7 linked regions of the Homo sapiens genome follow. The protein of the gene in region 4 purifies or fractionates together with the protein of the main gene of each other region. This does not show direct contact. Each region holds a gene or a part of one and is shown on either strand. Other genes may lie near its edges. The genes, in order: CCDC137, PUM3, GZF1, ADARB1, SPTY2D1, DDX56 and GLYR1.

Region 1 (2,332 bases), on a different chromosome or scaffold from region 4:
TCCTCCAGACACGGTGAAGTTTGGTGAGGTTGTCCTGCAGCCCCCAGAGCTGACTGCCAGGCCCCAGAGGAGCGTAAGCAAGGACCAGGTAAGTGGGGCACGGGGACAACTTGAGTTTGTCCCCCAGTGCTGCCAGGGAACAGAAGCCTTGGACAGGCTGGACACGGTGGGTCACACCTGTAATCCCAGCACATTGGGAGGCCAAGGCAGGCGGATTGCTTGAGCCCAGGAGTTGATACCAGCCTGGACAACATAGCGAGATCCTGTGTCAAGAAAAAAAAAAACCCTCAGCCAACGTGTGCGCTGTCTGGTGTGTGGCCTGAGAGTGCAGTGTTCTCGCTGGCGGGAGAGCTGTTGAAGCTGTGAGGCTTTCTGTTGCATCCCCTCCTTTCCCAGCCTGTGCCTCACCCTCCCCTCTCTCCCTCAGCCTGGCAGGAGATCGCAGATGCTGCGGATGCTTCTGAGCCCCGGTGGTGTGTCCCAGCCTCTGACCGCCTCCCTGGCCCGCCAGCGGATTGTGGAGGAGGAGAGAGAGCGGGCCGTGCAGGCCTACAGAGCGTTGAAGCAGCGGCAGCAGCAGCTGCACGGGGAGCGACCCCACCTCACTTCCCGGAAGAAGCCAGAGCCGCAGCTGTGATGGAGAGACACCCGGGGCCTGGCCACGCTCTGGGGCAACTGGCACCAGGAGCTGCTACACCTGGGTAGGAGAGAGGCAGGCCATGCCAGCAGTGTGGGGTGAGGCCTCCAGCTACTTGTTCACACGTTGGGCACTAGTGGGTCCACATCTTGCAGGGGGTGAGTGCCCGATGGACTAGGGCCAAGGCCTGGTTGACAGACGGCCCGTGGGGCCCGGTGTCACTCACAGCTCCATCTCTTTGTTTTGAACGTCCATTCTGAGTCTCAGCCCAGGTGGACCTTAGGAAGGGCTGGATCCCTGTCCCTGAACACCAAATACCGAGACAGCTGATGAGGCTGGCTCAGTGTGTGACGGAGGCCCCCGGGAGTCAGCAGAGCCGAGCGTACAGTGCACATCAGGCAGAGCAGGCCACGGGCAGGGACGACGCATCGGGACAGGGCTCTGCAGGGGACCGTGACTACAGGCCAGCTGTGAGTGGTCCCCTACAGAGGCTGCCCACCCAAGGTTTGGTTGGGGTGAAACATGATGACAACACATACACTTAAGAAGGTGGGAACCGGGGGCCGGGCGCGGTGGCTCACACCTGTAATGCCAGCACTTTGGGCAGCTGAGGCGAGTGGATCACCTGAGGTCAGGAGTTCGAACCAGCCTGGCCAACATGGTGAAACTGCATCTCTACTAAAAATACACGAAGAAAAAAAAAACAGTGGGAACAGAGTTGTCACCTACCTAACAGGGCTCTGAGAGAGCCGGGAGGCCCAAAGTGGCTGGAAGAAGGTAAAGGAAAAATCCTGTCTTGGGCTCAAGGTCACAGAGTGGGGCCCAGGGGGAGTTCCTGCTGAGGGCAGGGCCTTGCCAGGCTTCAGTCTCCAGTGCCAAAGGAGGAAATGCCCAGGCTGTCAGCATTTCCAGATGAGAGCAGAAGGGAGAAGCTTAAACCCAAGTCACACATCCAGCAATGGAGTCCGACAGCCCAGCACCATCTGGGAACTGAGAAGCACCTCTGCCCGGCCCCCACACCGTGTGGAAAGTGAGGAGCACCTCTGCCTGGCCGCCACCCCGTCTGGCAAGTGAGGAGCGCCTCTGCCCGGCCGCTGTGCAACCTTCCAAGTGTGAAGTGACAGCCTTGTGTGTGATGTTTTCTGCCTTCCCCAAGTTTGCACTTTCGACATTAAAGTTTACTTTTTAGTTAAAAGTTTTAAATTGGAGAATATATATTTAAAGTCAGGGCTGTTTTCCTCTTATGGGCATGTTTCCCACCTTGTGATGGACCTGGCGGCCCCAGCCCTCGCGTTGGGATGTTGTTTTTGCAGCAGCCAGAACTCAGCCCCAGATCACAAGCAGCAGCTGGAAGGGGGTGGCCTTTCCCTGGGAAAGGGCTGGGACGGCAGCGGGTGGCACTCCCACTCGCTCAATGCCTTTGGTTTTGGGTGTCAGATCGGCCCGTGTATGGCTAAGCAAAGGGATCCCACAGGGCTGGGAAAGCGCTCATGCTCTCCACTGCATCCATGATTCTCAGGTTTTAGCTGCTGGAAGGGAAACCCCTGGTGGTTTTTAGGGCCTCTTTGTTGCCCAGGCTGGGGTGCAGTGGCATAAGCACACTGCAGCAAGTTGTTGGGCTCAGGCAATCCTCCCACCTCAGCCTCCCAAGTACTTGGGACAACAGGTGCTCACCAACACACCCAAATAATTTTT
Region 2 (3,500 bases), on a different chromosome or scaffold from region 4:
AATAATTTTACATGATGGATGATTTGTGAATGTTTATCTTGAACCTCTGGAAGAAGAGAAATAGAATAATTAACTTATAATTAGCCACCAGTATTAAGAGGGTGGAGACTGGGGAGGGACAGGTGAGTAAACTGATAGAGGGTCAGTGGGTTAGAAAATGTCAACATGGGAGAATTTCCTAAATTAAGTGGAATTAGTACTTGTCTTGACCAATCTTTTTGAGTGTATTAATGTGCTAGAATATGATAATCAACAACAAAAAGTGTAATATATGCAGTTGACAAAATTTTCAAAAATGTATTCCTAGCTGTAGTTTCCAGCTGTTTAATTCTTTTAGGATATAGTTAAAATACTTGTGATTAAGTCCCATCTTCAAAAGGAATCTTAGAATATGATTTTCTATTTCCTTGAATCTTTTATCTTTTTTCCTGCCCTACTGTTTTTTTCGAGCAGAACAGTTTAATAGGAAATGACATTTATTGAGCATTTACTATGTGCTGGCCACAGCTTCTCAATGCATGCTAGCTCATTTACTCCTCAGAGTGACACAGATTGATGAGTTGGTCTTGGGAGAAGTAAGTTGTGTTTTATTGTCACCCAGCTTTCTCCTTCTATCATTTATTTTTCCATGATTGTGTTGCGTTTAGAAGTAAACCACAGATTGCAGAGATAATCAGAAGTTTTAAAGGCCACGTGAGGAAGATGCTGCGGCATGCGGAAGCATCAGCCATCGTGGAGTACGCATACAATGACAAAGCCATTTTGGAGCAGAGGAACATGCTGACGGAAGAGCTCTATGGGAACACATTTCAGCTTTACAAGGTGACATCTCCAGAAGTCTTTTTCTAGTATTTTTACTTTTCGATATGCTCTTCCTTAACTTCCGGTGCCCTATATATCTTTTGAATGTATTTTTACTGTGGCTGGTTCTTTAAGAGACCATCTTATGCCCTTGATTTTCCCTCATGCTTTATTTTGTTTCTGGTATAGTGAGCAAGTTTCTCTTTCTCCAGAGCATTGGCTTTAAATCCCCTTCAATTCAAACTTTGTTCCTCTCCTGAGTGCTCTGTGTGTAGCACTTCAATACTTCTATTTTTACAGTCATACTGAAGGACAAGACTCCCAATAGTTAGCAAAGTTGTGTGACCACCCCCAACCAGCTCTGGCTGAAGTGTATTGGGCTCTCTGTTGCTAGCTTCTCCTGTGTTTTTTCATGTGCATGCATTGCCCTTCTTCAGATTGTGTCTGGAGATGAAGGGGAACAGAGAGACCTAACCTTGGATAGAGTACAGGGATTGAATCTGAGAATAGTTAGCAGTGGGACTAGCTGGTTAAAGAATCTATTTCAAACCTTGGAACATAAATGCACACATGTGTCTGAAGGGATATGGATTGATTCCCGGGTTGCCTCCATTAGCCAGGTTCAATTCTTGGGTTGAATTTGTTGCTGTACTAATTTTGTTAACAGTTCGTTATATTTAATAGGAATAGCCAACTAATTATAAAACATATGGTGGCAAGAATTTGTGAAGTGACTACTTGATCTCATAATTGGGCAAGAGCTAGGTGCTTGGCAAGTAACTGTTAGCTGGTTAACTTGGTTGGCCTGGCTCTTTAAATGCACTGATAGATACACAGACTGAGAATCAGCTAATCAGGTTACTCCACAAGGATATACAGCAGAGCTTTCATTATGTAAATATGGGAAATCTTAAATTTGTTAAAACTTATTTTAAAATGACTAATTACTTTTCTTTTTCCTGAAGTGAAAAAATTGATTAAATTTAGAGGGGTTTGATTGTTTTGTTTTGTTGCAGTCAGCAGATCACCGAACTCTGGACAAAGTGTTAGAGGTACAGCCAGAAAAATTAGAACTTATTATGGATGAAATGAAACAGATTCTAACTCCAATGGCCCAAAAGTAAGAAAGTTGTTTTTGTTTTGTTCTTAAGAAATGACATTCAAAGGAGGAAGGTTTTCCATAACTGTTGCCCAGAAGAGGTAGCTATTTCCTGCTTACAAGTATTAATCTATTCTAAATAAGAGTGCAAAAGTGTTGGTTTGAAACCATTCTTGGTGCAAAAGGAGATTTCTTTTTCTGATATTGTACCCTATAAAATGATAACTAACATGCATTCGTGATTTATGAGCTTTTTTAAGCAATGAAACATTCTTTCCCCAAATAAAATGTTACATGGAAGCCATGTATACTAAACAGTTTCACAAATATAATCTGTTACTCAAATTTGGTTGTAGGCAAGGTACAGTGGCTCACGCCTATAATTCTAGCACTTTGGGGAACCAAGCTGGGAGAATCACTTGAGGCCAGGAGTTCAAGACCATCTGGGGCAATAGCAAGACCCCATCTCTACGAAAAAATAAGAAAATTAGCCAGGCTTTATGGCATGTGTGTATAGTCTTGGCTACTTGGGAGGCTGAGAGGCAGGAGGCTCACTGGAGCCCAGGAGGTCATGGCTGCAGTGAGCCATGGTTGTGCCACTGCATTCCAGCCTAGGCAACAGAGTGAGACCTTGCTTTAAAAAAATAAAAAAAAATTAAAAAATGGATTGTAAGACTTGGAAGCCTGTGCATGTGCCCTTCATGGCATCTGTCCAGTAGTGGAGTGGCTGAGCATAGCTTTTGGGACCCGACTGCCTGGGTACGACTCCTGGTTCCCCACTCCCCCAACTATTACTAACTGCAATCTTTGGCAACTTAACCTCCCTGTGCCTCAATTACCATATTTGTAAAATTGGGATAATAATAGTACAGACTTCATAGGAATTTTGTGAAGATTAAATGGGTTGGTTGTTCCAAAACACTCAGAACAGTGCTTTGCCCATAAAGGCAGTGTTAGTTTTTGCTGTCTACTTGGGTATCACCTGTGAACTTTAGGTCTTTTATGCCTGACCATCGGCCTCCACTGTACACCTGGATCCACCAAGTGTCACACTAGGGGGTTTGGATTAAGTAGGTGTTGTTGCAATTGCTGACAATGTTTGGTTCATTCAAGTTTTAATTCTGCTAAAATTATTTTGTGAAACAGATGGATTGTGAAGGGTGTTAACAGAAATAAAACAACTATTAAAAAAATACATCCACATGTGGATTTCTAATCATTATGTCCAGTGCTGGGGGAAAAAATGTAGATGTCCTTATTTAATAGAGCAGAGCATATTTCAAATGTTGATTTTATGTTTGCCGATTAAATACTAGAAGTTTATACTCTGGTCTTGGTTGTAGATGGCACTAAATCAATTTTACCATCTAAATTTTTGTTTAAGTTTTAGTATTTCTGAAAAATACAGTCTATTTTATGACAAATTGTATTCAGTAAAACCATTTCACTTGTTTAGATTACTTTAGGACTTTGAGATTACCTGTCTTTGTATGACTGTAGTGCCAGATCTGTTGTGTCTTTTTGCTTTTTTTTTCTGTTTTCAGGGAAGCTGTGATTAAGCACTCATTGGTGCATAAAGTATTCTTGGACTTTTTTACCT
Region 3 (3,500 bases), on a different chromosome or scaffold from region 4:
GTTTTAACAGTGGAGACCTACTGTTCCATGTGTTTTTAATGCCTGTATTGTTTATGACTTTATTTCATTTTCTCATGTAGGTGAAAGACCTTTTATGTGTGAAACATGTGGCAAGAGTTTTGCTTCTAAGGAGTACTTAAAACACCACAATAGAATCCATACTGGATCCAAACCCTTTAAATGTGAAGTATGTTTCAGGACTTTTGCCCAGCGGAATTCACTGTACCAGCATATTAAAGTCCACACAGGTATGGTTGGAATGTCCCAGGGAAGGGAGTTTAGTTTGGCCAAAAAAAAAATTCTAAAGCTTGTAGATTTACCAGTAAATTACTTGGAACTAAGCTTTTGAAGAAAACTGGCCAAACTTTGTATGTCATAATAGCATTTCTTTAGAGATTGTTTCTAACTCTGAGAAACTGAAAAGTGGGAGCACTTATGTGTGTAAACGGGAGAAGACTAAGTCCCTTTGCTACATGGAGTTTTTACTGAAAAGGACAGACAGCTTAGTCATGGTGTGAATGTAGGAAGTGGATGTGGATGTGTGGACATAGGGATAATGATCTGTACATGTTAGTAAATGCACATGCACACATGCATATTCAGTTGTTAGGGGTCTTGTAATTTTATACTCCATTACCATGGAAAACAGGTGTCATTCCTATAGTTATAATACCTGCTGCAGGCACATGTCCTGGCCCCTTTTTGGTGTAGGCCATAAATTCTTGGTATTATAGAGATAGTGGATTTGTAGCCCTTAAGTTGTTCCCAACATAACCTTCCTTATGTTGGATGCTGAGGCTTCCCAGTGGTTTGCAACAGCATCATTCACTCAAGTGTGTATTCAGAATTAAGCACAGTAGGCCAAAGGGACCCACCAGCAGTCTCCTCTCTCCCTGCCTCAGGGGAGCGTCCCTACTGCTGTGACCAGTGCGGCAAGCAGTTCACCCAGCTCAACGCCCTCCAGCGCCACCGCCGCATCCACACAGGGGAGAGGCCATTCATGTGCAATGCGTGCGGACGGACATTCACCGACAAGTCCACTCTTCGGCGGCACACCTCAGTAAGCAGTGGGTTGGCTTATTTGAGAAACAAGCTGCTGCCCTTAGATGCACGGAAAGAGAAATACCTACCACCATTCTCCAAGGTGGTTAGAGGTCGAGACAACAGGTACTTTCTCCTTGGGTTGTCTCTGCAGTGGAACGCTCACGGAATGAATGAAGTGGAACACCAAGCCCCAAGGCCCAGGGAAAGCACCATCCACGATGACTACTCTGTAACAGTGAGGGTGGTGGCAGGCGGGTACTTATTAGTGAAAGTTGAAAATTGAAGTTGTAGAGGGACTATTGTTTTAAAAGATGCACTTGTCCAGAGACACATTCAGTGACCTTTGTTTTGTGTTTAACTTATAGATACACGATAAGAATACTCCATGGAAGTCTTTCCTTGTCATTGTAGATGGCTCGCCCAAGAACGATGACGGACACAAGACTGAACAGCCTGACGAAGAGTATGTGTCATCCAAGCTTTCGGATAAATTGCTGTCTTTTGCAGAAAATGGCCATTTCCACAACCTGGCTGCAGTCCAAGACACTGTACCTACCATGCAGGAGAACAGTTCTGCTGACACAGCCTGCAAGGCAGATGACTCCGTGGTGTCCCAGGACACCCTCCTGGCCACCACCATCAGTGAGCTTAGCGAGCTGACCCCACAGACAGACTCGATGCCCACACAGCTTCACTCTTTGAGCAACATGGAATAAGAGCTTCAAGCAGTTCCCATCCTGTTAGTCTGCGTGTGTGGTAGCTGAACTCAAGATGATGTGGGGCTAAGAAAAATAATTGTCCATGTGCAAAGATGTGGGCAAGAATGGCCTCTGCAGATTTTCCTGAACTTCTGCTAACTTGCACGGCTTTATCACAGCATTTTTAAAGCTTTCCCTCAAAAATCCTGATCTGCATGATCTCAGCTACTTTATTGACAAAAAGGCAGTGAACATAACCTCACTTAATTCTGGTGTAGGGTGTATGTGCTAATCGTTCTAATTCTTGATTACCTAGTTTATAGATAACTGCTGGTCTTAATTGCAGAGTACAGAGAACTGAACCAGCTCCTGATATTGTAGTTAGCAGTCTTCCTGGCTTCTCACTCTGCCTTATATTTCCATGTGGGTTTACTTCTCTCATAACTACTTTCAAGGTATTTTTCTTCCAAGCTGAAATAAAACTGGGGCCACATATTTTCAGTCATTTCTTCCCTGTTGAATTGAAGCAAATCAGATTTTCTGTGGGGACCCTCAAATGCAACTGAAGAAATAGATTGTTGCATTCATTCCTCCCCACCCCCCATTTGTAGGCAGTAAACAAAGTATGACTGACAGATTGAACACCTGCAAAACTGCTAGCGTAATCTCAGCACATACGCAGCTAGGAAGTTTGTCATAAAATCAACTTAGAAATGAGATGAGGCTGTTCAGTTTGTCTTAAAAAAATCAGATTAGGTAAAAGCTGTCCTACCAAAGAGTCTAGCAAAACAATATAGTATTTTTTTGCAGAGGCATGAAAAATTAAGACGCTTTAGAGTACTTGAAAGTTGTGTAGTCATTTTATTTGCAAAATGAGGTGACTGTGGCAAATTATAGAACACAGAGTATTATTACTTTTGCCAGGTTTTTCTGACTTGATTTCTGTAATTTCCAGAAACCCAGACTTCTCATTTCCACACCTAGAGATGGAAACAGGCAAGTAACTGACATGTCTATTTCCTTGGGAGCATGTGAGAACATAGCAGTAGGGACCAAAAGTCTCAGCACACTTACCTCCGATTATGCCTTAAAGAGTTGATTGTGAAGAACCAGTAACTTTGTCCCAAATGCTTCTTTGGCTGTTTCATGCAGGACTTAATTATTGCTTTTAAAAATTCACAATGAAAAGACGATTCTGCTGTATTTGTTAAACGTTGACATTTGGTTCTAGGGCCTTGAGTATGTGCCACGTGCTTGTGAAATGCTATGATTCACATGTAACATTTAAACATTAATTTAAAAAGGGAACCTTGGAGAATTCTTTTGTTCACTAGTTCCTTTTTTCTCTACATTTTTAATTTATTAAACTTGCTGTGAAAACACTTTGATTTTCTAAGAGGAAGGTACTTTAAGTTCCAGAATGAACATGTAGCTGCACTATGCCAGAAATTAATGAGGGAAGACTTTCTTCCTAAGTGCTTATGTTTTAACTTATGTTAGTGAAACCACTACAAGGTGTTTCAGGCGCTGATAACATGCTTCACACCTGCCCTTGGAGGTCACAGTACTAATTTACTTCAAATTTAGTTATGACAGTGTCACTGTATCCTAGTTATGTTTACAGCACAAATAAATAATGACTGTCATACATCCAGAGGAGACCGAACCTGCCCAGCTGATGTACTGTTTTATGGAATAAAGTCACTTGATCAGAAGGAATTGAAACAATAGATCATTTTGTTACCTACTGGAGGGATT
Region 4 (3,500 bases):
ATTCTCTCCATCATCTGTGCAGTGGAGAGTAGTTCCCACTGCTGTGGAAACATTTTCCCTTTGCTCTTTTCTCTCAGGGCAGGCTTTCCTGAGTGCCTGCTCTGTGTGAGTCATCGTGGGAGGATGCGGTGGAGAAGGACAGGGAGGAGGTCTGTGCTTCTTTGAACTGACATTCTGGTGGAGAAACTAAACAGATCACAGAGGCAGACACCGTGCCTCACAACTACACACGGACCCGGCTTATGATGGTTCCAGTAACAATTTTTGACTTGACTGTGGTACCCATACAGTCATTCTGTTTTTCACTTTTGGCATAGCATTCAATAAATTGCATGCGATATTAAGTACTTTGTTATAAAATAGGCTTTGTATTAGATGATTTTGTTCAATTGTAGGCTAATGTGAGTGTTCTGAGCACCTTTTAGGTAGGCTAGGCTAAGCTTTGATGTTTGGTAGGGTAGGTGTATTGAATGCTTTTTCAGGTTAGGATGTCTTCAACTTGCGATGGGTTCATAGGATCGGAACTCCACCGTCAGTCAAGGAGCACCTGTGCTGTCTTTATTGGCATGACCGAGGAGACAGGGCTGAGGTAGATGGCATCAAGAGGGTGGCTCCTGGTGGAGGTATGATGTTCTGGGAAGGCCTCTCTGAGTGCGATGTGGTACGCTGAGGCCCAGAGGGAAAGCATGAGCTCATGTCAGGAGGGGGGACAACAGCCTTCTGGCTAGAAGGATAGCCTGCCAGAGAGCCTGCTTATTAGAGTGGCCAGGATAGGACCAGAACCATTGTCCAGTCAGGGGCTAGGAGGTGAGGCTGCAGAGACACAGGGGCCAGGTCCTGCAGACTCTCAAGAGTGCAACAGGAAGAATGGAGGCCTGGGTTGGCACTGTTGCCATGATTTAGCGGGGCAGAGGTGGCAGAACTGGAGAAAAGAGAGCAGGTGTGAATTCTTGGTTGTGGGCAATAGATCAGGTCTTGGAGACAAGGGAAGTGGAGGGACCAAGAAGGGCTCTTGGAGCTCTTTGGATGGTGATGATGTGATGATGCCACGTTCCAGAGGATCTCAGGTTAGGAGTCTTCAACTAGAGACCTCATTTTGTATTGGGTTCTGTTTGAGTCTGCAAAGCAGTTGTCATCTAATATGTGACTAGCAGAATATTTGTTTGTATAGATACCTCTCAACTTACGATGAGGTTCATAACTTAAATATATTGTCAGTTGAAAATGCATTTAATACACCTAACCTTCAAAATTCAAAGTACACTTTCTATTAAATATGTATCACTTTCACACCATCATAAAGTAAAAAAATCATAAGTCAGACTGTTGTAAGCCAGCGTCTGTCTGTACCTTCCCACGGCCTACAAAATTTGTAATGCATTGTTTGTAAAACACAGACACGTGCATTTAAACTTTTATTAGGTAGAACTGGCTCTTCTTCAGGGTCCTTGTAATTAAGTCAGTTATTCCTCTCATGACATTCTTGTAGGAGGTCTCATTACCCCTATTTATCAGATCAGAAAACTGATGCTAAGGGGCTCAGTGACTTCCTAGGAAAGCTGGATAATGTTTAACATTTATTAAGCTCTTACCATGTGTCAGACATGGTAAAGTGAGTTTAATCTAGTTTAATCCTCATGATGATCTTAGGATGTTGCTATTAAGGGTCACTGTCATCATCCCTTTTTACTGATAACACTGGCCTGGCTTACCTGAGTAGCCTCCTAACAGATCTCTTCTTCCACTTCTGGTCTCCTTCAGTCTGTTCTTGACCAGCAGTCGGATCTGAGCCTGTACATGGAAGACATCACGTCATTCTCCTGCTCAGAGTCCCCCTGCGGCCTTCTTTCCTGCTGTCCCTTCCTGCCACTCAGAGCCCTGGCTCCAGCTGTCTTGGGGCCTATAGCTAGCCCTCACTTCAGTGTTCATGCACCATTGTGTGCTGCGTGCCCTGCTCACTGTTCTGTTTATTTCTGCCATCTGTACCCACCACTACCTTCCTCCCCACACAGCCTGCCTGGCCAGAATGAAAGCCTCAGGAAGGCAGGGCTATTGCTCTGAATCTGTCCTGAGGGCTCGGAGCAATGCCTGGTAGATAGACACTTGTAAGCCTTTGCTGAAGGAGAGAATAACTTTAACTTACTTTTTCTGTTGGTAGTAAGTAGTAGAACCTGCATTAAGTTTATCTGCTTCTGAAAACGTATGCTTTTGCTGCCTCCCTACACTGCCCCCCCATCCTATTGTACTTGGTGAATCAGTCATATATTTATGCCCCATATGTCTGTGTTATCTCCAGATTTCCACACTTTTCTATGTAGAATAGAAACATTTATAAAACATTCAAAATTGTTATAAAACCATAAAGTTTGACATAGTAAATTATCTGTTGAAAACAGGGAGGCCACATCCTGGAAAAGTAGCTCTGTCCTGCCAGCATCATTTTAACCCCTTTTGGACAAGATACAGTTGAAATGCATTCTCTGAAATAATACTTATAACTACATCTTGACAGAAACAAGAATATTTCGAATAATTCTGGGAGGATTCAGGAAAAGGCAGCCAAATAAAATGAAAAAATACATTTGATTCAACTGTGGAGGCTTAAAGGAATTACACATCTTTTTTGTTTTTTTGCGACAGCGTCTTGCTTTGTTGCTCAGGCTAGAGTACAGTGGTACAATCATAGCTCACTGTAGCCACAACCTCCTGGGTTCAAGCGATCCTCCCGCCTCAGTCTCAGCCTCCCAGGTAGCTGGGGCTACAGGTGGATGCCACCACACCCGGCTAATTTTTGTATTTTTTGTAGAGACGGGGTTTTACCGTGTTGCCCAGGCTGGTCTCGAGCTCCTGGACTCAAGGGATCCAATTGCCTCGGCCTCCCAAAATGCTGGGATTACAGGCGGAGCCATTGCACCTGGCCAAAAAAGCATCTCTTATAAGCTGTTTTTGGTGAAGGAGCAAACAGGAAAGTGTCCCAGAATTTGGGAGATCAGGATTGTAATCCCAGCCCTGCTTCTGAACAGGATGGTGCATTCTCTTCATGCCTCTGCTGCAGGCTCCTTGGATGTAGAATGAGGGCAGTTGAATTGCTTGTTGCCGAGGTTCTCTCCATTTCTGGAAGACTATTGTAAGTCAGAGTCAAATAATCATTCATTCAGTTGTCCAATAAATACTCATCATAGAACCTATGTGTAGTCCTGTCTAATGGTAGGTGGTGCTACGTCACTTCCTGCCATGGCTGCCGAGGCTCACGCGAGGCTGGCACTTGGCAGAGAGTCCTGTCCCTTCTTTTGACTCAGTAACTGTGGAAAGAGGTGAGGTATAGGAAGGGAGGGCCTAGGCCTTAGGGGTTAAGCGGGCTTAGGAGGCAGGATTGAGAGAGGTGGAATGATGGATTCAGAGTCCAAGAGAAAACGTGAAACTCCAGGGGATTAGAATTGATCCCTTTCTCTGTTTCCTCAGTCTTAGGGGGACTAGACTGTGTTAGTTGTCTTGAATTA
Region 5 (3,500 bases), on a different chromosome or scaffold from region 4:
CAGTGGCATGATCTCGGCTCACTGCAAGCTCCGCCTCGCGGGCTCACGCCATTCTCCTGCCTCAGCCTCCCGAGTAGCTGGGACTATAGGCATCCGCCACCATGCCTGGCTACTTTTTTTGTATTTTTAGTAGAGACGGGGTTTCACTGTGTTAGCCAGGATGGTCTCGATCTCCTAACCTCATGATCCACCCCCCTCGGCCTCCCAAAGTGGTGGAATTACAGGCGTGAGCCACCGTGCCTGGCTAATTTTTGTATTTTTTGGTAGAGATGGGGTTTCACTATGTTGGCCAGTCTGGTCTTGGACTCCTGACCTCAAGTGATCCACCCGCCTTGGCCTCCCAAAGTGCTGGGATTACAGATGTGAGCCACCACGCCCGGTGAAGGGTTTTTTGTTGTTGTTGTTGTTTTTGGAGATGGAGTCTTGCTCTGTCACTCAGGCTGGAGTGCAATGGCATGATCTTGGCTCACTGCAACCTCTGCTACCCAGGTTTAACCCATTCTTTTGCCTCAGCCTTCCAGTCTTTGCTGGGATTACAGGCATGTGCCACCACGCCTGGCTAATTTTTTTTTTTTTTTTTTTTTGTATTTTTAGTAGAGATGGGGTTTCATCATGCTGGCCAGGCTGGTCTCGAATTCCTGACCTCAGGTGATCCACCCACCTCGGCCTCCCAAAGTGCTGGGATTATAGACATGAGCCACCATGCCTGGCCAAGGGTCTTTTATCTCAGCCATGTGGTCTGAGCCTGGTACAAAAAAATAAGGAAGTTAATTTAAAACAAAAGGTCATTAATTAATAGGTCATGCTCCAAGACTCTGTCTCCAAAGTCAACCTCCTCAGGGCTGAACAACCTTTAGAAGCCCCAAATAGACTCTCCATTTTCTTTCACAGATCTGAAGATGACTTGTCTCATGTCTGGGGCAGTGTTGGATTTCTAGCCTAGAGCAGTACCTCTCAACTAGTGTTTTAGGGAGAGGGTCTTTTAGAAACTACTGTTCACCTTTTTCCCATAGAGGTTCTGTTATTTCCCTTCCCCATCACTACCAAGATAATCTCTTTCTGAATAACAATTAACCTTTATAGTGCATACTCTGTGCCAGGCACTGTTCTAAGCACTTTATATATTAATTTAATCATCATAATAACCATATAATGAGCAGTATTTTACTAATGAGGAAACTGAGGCCCGTAACTTGCCCATGGTCACAGAGCTAACGCTAGATATGGTAGAGCAGAGAATCTAATCCAGGCAGATTAGCTCCAGAGTTCTTGCTCTTAATCATGAGCTTGTGTTGAATGAGGGGCGTGTACTGAGGATGGTATAGTGAGGAAGGTTGTTACCTACACAGCTTGAACCCATCCAGTTCCCTATCCCCAACTCCAGCCTTAGGCAGTAACTCTGTTTTTTTTTTTTGTTTGTTTGTTTTGTTTTTTAATGACATTCTTAGTATACAGTAGAGTCTGATGGGAGACAAATGTAAAGGCTGAACCAAAATCATTTGGAAACTGATAGGCAGAAGGATATTTACAGCTTGTTTAGGACAGTGCCAGCATGGTTAACAGAAGTAGAGTCTGAAGGTGAGGGAGGATAAGATAGAAGTTTGGTTGTAGACCTTTCTGAAGTACTGGCATTATCCAAGAGGCAGGTGGAAATTAGGGAAAGGAGGTTAGAACTAGAGATCCAAGTGTTGGAGTTAAATTAAAAACTAGAGATGAAAGTGGTGGAGCCAGGCATTGTGGCTCACGCCTGTAATCCCAGCTCTTTGGGAAGCTGAGGTGGGTGGATCATGAGGTCAGGCGTTCGAGACCAACCTGGCCAACGTGGTGAAACCTGTCTCTACTAAAAATACAAAAGATTACCTGGGTGTGGTGGCAGGTGCCTATAATCAGTCCCAGCTACTTGGGAGGCTGAGGCAGGAGAATTGCTTGAACCCAGGAGGTGGAGGTTGCAGTGAGCCGAGACCACGCCACTGTACTCCAGCCTGGGCAACAGAGCGAGACTCCATCTCAAAAAAAAAAAAAAAAGAAAGTGTTGGAGTTAAATTAGAAGTGACCATCATGGGCAACAAAGTGAGACCCCCCCCCCAATCTCTACAAAAAATACAAAAATTATTAATAGCCAGTTGTGGTGGTGTGTGCTTGTAGTCCCAGTTACTCGGGAAGCTAAGGTGGGAGACTCACTGGAGCCCAGGAGTTTGAGGCCACAGTGAGCCAAGGTCATGCCACTGTACTCCAGCCGCCTGGGTGACAAATCAAGCAAGACCCTATGTATTTCTAAAAAAAAAAAATGAGATGTGTTGTAGTGAGAATATTTTGGGGCTGAGTTAGGCGATCTGGATTCTAATTCAGACTCTGCTATAAACCGTGTGATTGCCAGTAAATACACAGGTGTTCTGGGCCATTTCTAACATAGAGGTTGGACTGGAGACTCCATGAGACACCTATCTGATATTATTACATTTTATAATCAGGTATGTTTTTGTAAACACAATAACAGTAAAATTTACATTTAACTCCATAGCAATTATGAATAGCATCTTTTGGGGCAGGTTATTAATTTTTATCCTCTTAGCCATCCAGCTAAGCAGTTCTAATGGAACCATTGGTTTTCCAGGCCTACTTTCTTTCTCTGACTCTGATGTTCTGAGAAAATTTTTAAAAACTGTGGTGATTATTAAAGTTAAGGATGCAGCATTCTTTGAATATTCCTAACTCCTAATTCTAACCAGTTATAAATCTCTTATGTAAAGCCATCAAGAAATTTATATTTTCTACAGTCGAAACAATATGTTATCTCCTGGGTAAAGAACAGCTTTCATGGAGGAATTGACTTTTTTTTTTCTTGAGACGGAGTCTCGCTCTGTCGCCCAGGCTGGAGTGCAATGGCGCGATCTTGGCGGACCACAACCTCTGCCTCCCGGGTTCAAGCAATTCTCCTGCCTCAGCCTCCCTAGTAGCTGGGATTACAGGCAATGCGCCATCCCGCCTGGGTAGTTTTGTATTTTTAGTAGAGATGGGGTTTCTCCATGTTGGTCAGGCTGGTGTTGAACTCCCAACCTCAGGTGATCCACCCACCTCAGCCTCCCAAAGTGCTGGGATTACAGACGTGAGCCATCACGCCTGGCCAGGGATTGACTATCGATTCCAACATAACATACAGTAGTCGGTGTACACATGTTTCTAGACTAATGTCTCCTTATTTTCTTAATCTGGCTTAGATGATACAGTTTAAATGCAAGGAACAGATATGTTTTAAAGTGGCTTAATATTTTCTAAAGCTCTTGGCTTCAGAGTTACAAATCTTGGCAAAATCTCTGATGTTGTATTTAAATGACAAGCTTCACTGTGGTGGATCATTCATTGGGGTGTAGCAGAATGACTGAGTTGGCTTGCAGTGTAATAAAATGGATATGCTTAGGATAAAAGAAACTCTTGTCCAGCTGCTTTCCATGAAGCTCAAACAATGAAGCAGCCTGGTGCCTTGACTCAGATTCAGAATT
Region 6 (3,975 bases), on a different chromosome or scaffold from region 4:
ATGGGCCTAATGTAATCACAAAGGTTGTTTCCTTGCCTTTTCCAGCTTGGCTCTGGCTCCCTTCCTCCAGCAAGGGTGGGTTGAGCTCTCACATGGCACCACTTTGACCTCTTCTGCTTCCCTCTTCTACACTGAAAGACTTATGGGCCAGGAGCAGTGGCTCGCACCTGCAATCCCAGCACTTTGGGAGGCCGAGGAAGGCAGATCGCTTGGCCCCAGGAGTTCAAAACCGTCCTGGGCAACGTGGCGAAACCCCATCTAGAAAGAAAAGAAGAGAAGGGGAGGGGGGAGGGGAGGAGGAGTTACATATATACACATACACACACACACACACGTACGTACATACATACATACACGCTAACTGGACGTGGTGGTGCGTGCCTGTAGTCTTAGCTTTCCAGGAGACTGAGGTGGGAGGACCACTTGAGCCTGAGATCGCGCCAGCCTGGGTGACAGTCAGACCATGTCTCAAAAAAAAAAAAAGATTTGTGATTAGGATTCTTAGTCCTCACCTGTATTATTTTCCTATTGCTACTGTAACAAATTACCACAAATTTACTGGCTTAAAACGACGCAAGTCTGTAGGTCAGAAGTCTGACACGGGTCTTAACTGGTGACCCGAGTCAGATTTGGGACACAAAGAACAGAAACCAAGCTGTGCAGGTTTCTGACAGGCAGTCCGGTTAGGGAGCCCTACAGCAACCCGCCGGTCCTCTCTCTCAGGCAGTTGCTGCCATGGCTCATTATTCCAACCGGTTCTCCTCAGCCCAGTCTATCTCAGTGGCTCCATTCATAGGGTGATGTGCCCGGCGGGACACTAACCCTAACCAAGCAGAGAGACGGTCATGCCCGTCACGACCTCGGCCCTCGCCCCGGCCGAGGCTTCTCCTGCAGGTCGCGAGAATCAGGTGCGTCAGCGGCGTCCGGGAACGCCGGAAGAGCCAGTGGAGCGGCTCTGTAGTCCAAAGTACCCCGTCGACCCCAGCACGGCCGCTCCACCGCCTCCTACTAGACCCAGTCCTAGGGACTGCGCAGTCGCAGAGCTCCGTCCGAGTACCGGAAGCCTAGGCCGCCAGCACTTCCGGGAAGTGACTTCGTCTCCGAAGCCGATTGGTTGTTGCTTTGCTCCCGCTCGCGTCGGTGGCGTTTTTCCTGCAGCGCGTGCGTGCTGCGCTACTGAGCAGCGCCATGGAGGACTCTGAAGCACTGGGCTTCGAACACATGGGCCTCGATCCCCGGCTCCTTCAGGTACACGCGAGGGCTGGGGAGCCGGCTTACGGGCTCTGCGGGGCGCGCCATCGCTCTTCACGCCGCTTAAACCGCACTCCTGGTCTCCTAGGCTGTCACCGATCTGGGCTGGTCGCGACCTACGCTGATCCAGGAGAAGGCCATCCCACTGGCCCTAGAAGGGAAGGACCTCCTGGCTCGGGCCCGCACGGGCTCCGGGAAGACGGCCGCTTATGCTATTCCGATGCTGCAGCTGTTGCTCCATAGGAAGGCGGTGGGTAACGAGAGAGCTGAGGGGAGGAAGGAGGCAAGCTCCAAAAGCCTGGGAAGGGCGGTTCCCGTTTGTCTGAGGTTTTCTCTTGGCCCTGTACCCGTGCAGGCCGGCCTGAGAACCTGGTGCTGTTGTGGCAAACACTCTGGGCTGGAGTTCAGGTTACCTGGATCCTTGTCCGGCCCTGCTACCACCAACCTTTGCGTAATCTTCGACAAAGCACTTTCTTTTCTTTCTTACATAAAAAGGGAGCACATCTATCTTTTCTACTTACAGAATTATTGTGAGAATTTAGCTTCATAACTAGTATATTTAAAGTAGCTTCATAAACATCAGAGTACGTTATTCTTTTTGAGGGTCAGTGCCTGGGGAAAGAACTCTCCACTCTGCATTCTGAGGCGGGCAGAGTGATAGATGATCAAAGTACTGCTAAGTAGTGTTGCAGCAGATGGGTCAGGTAGGCTGGAAGGGGTAGAGACACGTGGACACAGTGATGTGCACTGCTGGCTAAAGTCTTTAATTCATATTCTTACAGACAGGTCCGGTGGTAGAACAGGCAGTGAGAGGCCTTGTTCTTGTTCCTACCAAGGAGCTGGCACGGCAAGCACAGTCCATGATTCAGCAGCTGGCTACCTACTGTGCTCGGGATGTCCGAGTGGCCAATGTCTCAGCTGCTGAAGACTCAGTCTCTCAGAGGTGGGTAAAAGCAGCAAAGCTGTACCTGAATGAAGCTACACAGTGTTGTGGGGTTGGGTTTGTGTGTGGCAAAAAAGAGAGCAAATCCAGGGTGAGATCCCAGCTGCTACATTCTGCCTGATACTGATGTCTTGTCCACCTCCAGAGCTGTGCTGATGGAGAAGCCAGATGTGGTAGTAGGGACCCCATCTCGCATATTAAGCCACTTGCAGCAAGACAGCCTGAAACTTCGTGACTCCCTGGAGCTTTTGGTGGTGGACGAAGCTGACCTTCTTTTTTCCTTTGGCTTTGAAGAAGAGCTCAAGAGTCTCCTCTGGTAAGGCAGAGGTGGGTGTGATTCCTAGTGGAAACATCTGTGAGTAGGAGTTGGGACGAGAGCGGGGTGGCTGGAAGCCAGTTACTACAATTAGCGGCCCTTGGAGCTGGAATCTGATTGGATTCTTTCATTTCAGTCACTTGCCCCGGATTTACCAGGCTTTTCTCATGTCAGCTACTTTTAACGAGGACGTACAAGCACTCAAGGAGCTGATATTACATAACCCGGTAAGAGGCACCATGGAAGTGTCTGGAGCTGCAGACATGGGGGCACTCAAAGATCTTGATGCTCCTTCTTAGGGGATTCTTTGGTGTTTTGGGTGGGACAGTTGTCACTTAGTGTCTCATCCCTGGTCCTGAGGCACTAAAAGCCAGTGGTCTAAAATCACTATATATTTCCAAGTGTCCACAAGGGATGTCTCCCATTTCAGGCCATGCTTTGCCTAAAATCCTGAGCAAGGACCTCCCCTAAGGGGCAGCTTTGAGCAGCAGAGCCAAAATTCTAAGGCCAAGGTTCTCATCTTAAGTAAACTTTACCTTTCAGAAGGCCTGTTGCTGTAGGCCTTCCCTTCTCAATGTAGTCCTTTATTGATGTGTTTCTCTTTGTTCTGTGCTTGGAAGTATTTTATATATGGTTTATATGGTATACTCTATATACCACAACAATAAGGGCATTTTGGGGTTTTAGGTTACAAAACTGGAGGAGAGTTAGGGTGCCAGGAATCCTTAAATGCATCTCTGCCCTGCACTAAAATGTTGATGCTTTGGTTGGTGAGTAAGTGGCCATACATCTCTGTGTTCTTTTCCTTTCTGACCACAGGCCTGTTTTCTCCCCCAGGTTACCCTTAAGTTACAGGAGTCCCAGCTGCCTGGGCCAGACCAGTTACAGCAGTTTCAGGTGGTCTGTGAGACTGAGGAAGACAAATTCCTCCTGCTGTATGCCCTGCTCAAGCTGTCATTGATTCGGGGCAAGTCTCTGCTCTTTGTCAACACTCTAGAACGGAGTTACCGGCTACGCCTGTTCTTGGAACAGTTCAGCATCCCCACCTGTGTGCTCAATGGAGAGCTTCCACTGCGCTCCAGGTCTGCCACAGCCAACATCTTGGTTGAAATAAGTTGAAGATAGAGATGGAAAGGGGACCCAGTTAATGTTCTGTTTCTTAAGCACTTAGTAGGGGCCAGGTTCTAGATGTGACTGATACTGACTTCTCCCAACTCCAAAATACCTATCATGGCCGGGCACCATGGCTTATGCCTGCTGTAATCTCAGCACTTTGGGAGGCCGAGGTGGGCGGATCGCCTGAGGTCGGGAGTTCAAGACCAGCCTGGCCAGCATGGTGAAACCCCGTCTCTACTAAAAATACAAAAATTAGCTGGACATGGTGGCAGGCACCTGTAATCCCAGCTACTCAGGAAGCTGAGATAGGAGAATTGCTTGAGCCCGGGAGGTGGAGGTTGCAGTGAGC
Region 7 (3,500 bases), on a different chromosome or scaffold from region 4:
AGATCAGAAACCCCAGAATTGACAGCTGACTACTTTCACTTTCATGTGTTACACATTGATGGTTGAAATTAAAAATTACATATCGGAGGTGTATGTTCTTCTACCTTTAATCTCAAGCATCTTGTTTCTATTTTTTTTTTTTTTTGAGACATCATAAAACAGCATGCCATCTTGTTTTTAAATGCCTCCTTTTGTAACTGCTGCCCTTATTCCAAACCATGTGTTCCGTGTTTTGTGTGGTTTAGTAGCCATGGTTACCATCATTTATGAACAAATATAGGCTCAGTGGCTGTGAATATCCATAGGAACCACAAATTTTAGAAGATGTTGCATTTCTTCAGCTCTGTAACATCCCTGACTCTCTGTGGATCAACAGATCATAAATCTGGTTCCCATTGTTGACAGGCAGCAGGCATTTTCCTGCATAGTAATGCTGCTATCATCTATCACATTTCCAGGTACCCTGATTCCCAGGGATCTGTGTGTGGCCATTTGTGCTGCCTGGTGAGAATGGGAAAGGGTCTCCAGATTTCTTTCTGCCCTGAGCAAGTGGCAGCGTATATGTGGTTGGGCATTGGAGGCTGATAGACGATTGTGGAAATAAATAATCTGCAACACAGTGCTTTCACTGGAGGAACTTGATTTGTGGTTGCTGCAGTGGTGGTGATGGTTGTTCTGCTTGACTTGTTTCAAGAAAATATACTTTAGACATAAGACTCTGAGATGGTTGATAGCATGTTTTGAAAGAAATGGCAAGGCCTATTGCAAAGTCCAGTTAAACCAAATGGATATTTACACCGTGCCATAGTGAGGTTGTTGATACTTTAGGGCATATGCTATATGGTTCACACCCTTTTTGTGTTTGTTTTCTGCTAGTGCCTGGATCAAAGTGGAACAGCTGAAGCCATATCATGCTCATAAAGAGGAAATGATAAAAATTAACAAGGGTAAACGATTCCAGCAAGCGGTAGATGCTGTCGAAGAGTTCCTCAGGAGAGCCAAAGGGAAAGACCAGGTGAGAGACACAATGTTCACTTTCTACCAATGCCAGACTGGTGATTTTTGCATAGCAACTAACAGATTAAATGTCACCCAAACGCAAACCTTTGTTCTTCTGAAATGCTACTGGAGAAAGCTACTTCAGTTCTAAGGTGTCAGCGTTTTGCTTATCAGTTTGAAACTCCATGCAGCTAACCTTTCTGGAGTAGGTTGTTGCTTTTAGGAAAATTGCTTGGACCCAGGAGAAATATCTCAGCATTTGAGTCTAGCACAGGCCATTTCTTCCTTTCATAGCACACAGATTAGGAGCATAGCCTCTGAAATACATATACTGCCTAGATTTAAATCCTTTCTTCTAGTTTTGGGACATAGGGAAAGTGACTTTTGATATATATATTTTTTAAATCTGCTTCTCCCAATGTCTGGGACGACAGCAGAATCTATTTCTAGGGTCATTGTGAGGAGACCACACAGAGTGCCTGTAGCAGCACATGGCACCTGTAAATGATGGTGGCGATGGCGGCAGCAGCTGTGGTGGTAGTTATCATTATTATTATTAAACTTTCAGACGTCATCCCACAATTCTTCTGATGACAAGAATCGACGTAATTCCAGTGAGGAGAGAAGTAGGCCAAACTCAGGTGATGAGAAGCGCAAACTTAGCCTGTCTGAAGGGAAGGTGAAGAAGAACATGGGAGAAGGAAAGAAGAGGGTGTCTTCAGGCTCTTCAGAGAGAGGCTCCAAATCCCCTCTGAAAAGAGCCCAAGAGCAAAGTCCCCGGAAGCGGGGTCGGCCCCCAAAGGATGAGAAGGTTTGTTTTCTCTCTGCAGCTTCCGGGATTAGTGATGTCCTTTTAGTACAAGGTAGAGTTAAGCTCTACAGTATGCTTATGTAGTATGCTTATCTATACTCTGCTCATGGAGTGGGAGCAGAATTCTGTGCTCAAGAATCCTGCAGGGCAGGTGCGGTGGCTCATGCTTTATCCCAGCAACTCAGGAGGCTGAGTCAGGAAGATGGCTTGAGCCTTGGAGCTCAAAGTTGCATTGAGCCGATTGCACCACTGCATTCTAGCCTGGGTGATGGAGTGAGACCCCGAATCTTATTTAAAAAATTAAAAAATAAAGAATCCCATAGACCAGGTGAGAGACACGGCCTGGATGCAGGTGTAAAGTAGGAGCGCGAGGCAGGAGAGCAGTCCACTTGAGCCGGTGCACAAGGGCTGGCCCTGGGAGGGGCTTAGCAAGAAAGAAGGGTAGGCATTCCAAAGATGGAGGGCACAGCCCGTGTGAGGCTCGGTGCTGGTGGAGATACTCTCGAACAGGGAGAGGATAGTGAGGAAAGCCGAGAAAAAGGAAGCTTGTCCCTGGATCGTGGAGGGCCTGAAGGTCTACTGAAGCAGCGTGGTACTAAAGCGTCTTGGAGTCAGTGGGGGCCCGGGAAGGTGACTGAGCCAGTGGCAGTGTGTGCCTCCCGTGTGTGCACCAGTAGTCACCGAGTGCAGAGGGGAAAGTCTCAGAGCCAATTAGGAGGTAAGTCTAGGCGTGCATTCATAAGGGGGTAATTGCAAATGTTGCAAGCAAAGAGGTGAGAGGCACTTCAGAGGAAGAGTTCTTAAGATTCCATAATTGGTTATATAGAGGATGAATGAGAAAAAGGAAAAGAGGATTTCCATCTTCATTCCTGGGAAAGTGGTCATCACTTTCTTAAAAGTAGAGGACTGGGGATGTAGAGGTGGCTTGTGGAGAAAGAGTACCAGTTCTGTTTGGAATGTCAAGAACTTGAGGCAAGGCCTAGACAGCCTGGGAGCTTGGTGTGACCTCAGGACTAGAAATGTAGATTTGGGAGGTGAATTTGTAAAAGGGTAGTTGAGTCCGGGCAGTGGAATGGGTTTGTTTCAGGAAGAGAGGGAGAAGAGGGAAGCGCGGAGGCCTGCATTGCCACAAGAATGCCGTGCTTGGGGCAGGAAGGAGCAGGAGGAGCTAGCAAGATGAGATAAAGCAGTGAGAGTGCCTCTCTCGCCTTCTTGCTGACAAGATTTGGGGCCGGTCTTACAAGGCCACAGAGAAGAATTTCAAAGTGAAGGGGACTGTGTCAGGAACGCGGTAGGATTGTCAACAGCAGGATAAAGAGAACAGAAGCCAGATGGCTGGCAGCAACAGTTGGGTGACGAGGCCATGATGGAACATTAGACCTTGGATCAAGGCTCAAAAATTCAGACACCAGCGAGCCCAGGCAGGTAATGGAAGCAACTGTAGCTGACTGGACCTAAGAAGCAGTGGCACGGGTGCCAGGCACCCCAGCTGACCTGCCTTGGTGCTCAGAGCAGCAGGGCTGGCCATGGTCAGGGAGTCTGGGGAGGTCATGCTCTGTCCACAGGGTTCTAGCCAGCTTCTGCCAAATTGTCTGTTTTTTCTCAAGAGAAGCTGGGAAGGCCAGTTGTGGTGTCTCATACCTGCAATCATAGCACTTTGGGAGGCTGAGGCAGGAAGATCACATGAGCC

Evidence for each region.
Region 1: the proteins of ADARB1 (region 4) and CCDC137 purify together in Homo sapiens (co-immunoprecipitation; 2 studies listed by BioGRID and IntAct, with this or other methods). This does not show direct contact.
Region 2: the proteins of ADARB1 (region 4) and PUM3 purify together in Homo sapiens (affinity purification with mass spectrometry; one large-scale study listed by BioGRID and IntAct). This does not show direct contact.
Region 3: the proteins of ADARB1 (region 4) and GZF1 purify together in Homo sapiens (co-immunoprecipitation; 2 studies listed by BioGRID and IntAct, with this or other methods). This does not show direct contact.
Region 5: the proteins of ADARB1 (region 4) and SPTY2D1 purify together in Homo sapiens (co-immunoprecipitation; 2 studies listed by BioGRID and IntAct, with this or other methods). This does not show direct contact.
Region 6: the proteins of ADARB1 (region 4) and DDX56 purify together in Homo sapiens (affinity purification with mass spectrometry; one large-scale study listed by BioGRID and IntAct). This does not show direct contact.
Region 7: the proteins of ADARB1 (region 4) and GLYR1 purify together in Homo sapiens (affinity purification with mass spectrometry; one large-scale study listed by BioGRID and IntAct). This does not show direct contact.

The regions. Positions count from the first base shown.
Region 1 is NC_000017.11:81,672,068-81,674,399, forward strand, and holds the end of CCDC137 (coiled-coil domain-containing protein 137), read left to right. Parts: intron 1-8; coding exon 9-88; intron 89-427; coding exon 428-637; 3' UTR 638-1,832; downstream 1,833-2,332.
Region 2 is NC_000009.12:2,827,096-2,830,595, reverse strand, and holds part of PUM3 (pumilio homolog 3), read left to right. Parts: intron 1-647; coding exon 648-822; intron 823-1,817; coding exon 1,818-1,921; intron 1,922-3,444; coding exon 3,445-3,500. UniProt on the Homo sapiens protein: Inhibits the poly(ADP-ribosyl)ation activity of PARP1 and the degradation of PARP1 by CASP3 following genotoxic stress. Binds to double-stranded RNA or DNA without sequence specificity. Involved in development of the eye and of primordial germ cells.
Region 3 is NC_000020.11:23,368,682-23,372,181, forward strand, and holds part of GZF1 (GDNF-inducible zinc finger protein 1), read left to right. Parts: intron 1-80; coding exon 81-248; intron 249-902; coding exon 903-1,060; intron 1,061-1,409; coding exon 1,410-1,760; 3' UTR 1,761-3,500. UniProt on the Homo sapiens protein: Transcriptional repressor that binds the GZF1 responsive element (GRE) (consensus: 5'-TGCGCN[TG][CA]TATA-3'). May be regulating VSX2/HOX10 expression.
Region 4 is NC_000021.9:45,081,080-45,084,579, forward strand, and holds part of ADARB1 (double-stranded RNA-specific editase 1), read left to right. Parts: intron 1-3,500. UniProt on the Homo sapiens protein: Catalyzes the hydrolytic deamination of adenosine to inosine in double-stranded RNA (dsRNA) referred to as A-to-I RNA editing.
Region 5 is NC_000011.10:18,624,343-18,627,842, reverse strand, and holds part of SPTY2D1 (protein SPT2 homolog), read left to right. Parts: intron 1-3,500. UniProt on the Homo sapiens protein: Histone chaperone that stabilizes pre-existing histone tetramers and regulates replication-independent histone exchange on chromatin.
Region 6 is NC_000007.14:44,571,109-44,575,083, reverse strand, and holds the start of DDX56 (probable ATP-dependent RNA helicase DDX56), read left to right. Parts: upstream 1-1,175; 5' UTR 1,176-1,188; coding exon 1,189-1,248; intron 1,249-1,339; coding exon 1,340-1,501; intron 1,502-2,033; coding exon 2,034-2,194; intron 2,195-2,339; coding exon 2,340-2,510; intron 2,511-2,646; coding exon 2,647-2,737; intron 2,738-3,347; coding exon 3,348-3,592; intron 3,593-3,975. UniProt on the Homo sapiens protein: Nucleolar RNA helicase that plays a role in various biological processes including innate immunity, ribosome biogenesis or nucleolus organization. Plays an essential role in maintaining nucleolar integrity in planarian stem cells.
Region 7 is NC_000016.10:4,830,289-4,833,788, reverse strand, and holds part of GLYR1 (cytokine-like nuclear factor N-PAC), read left to right. Parts: intron 1-876; coding exon 877-1,015; intron 1,016-1,567; coding exon 1,568-1,810; intron 1,811-3,500. UniProt on the Homo sapiens protein: Cytokine-like nuclear factor with chromatin gene reader activity involved in chromatin modification and regulation of gene expression. Acts as a nucleosome-destabilizing factor that is recruited to genes during transcriptional activation.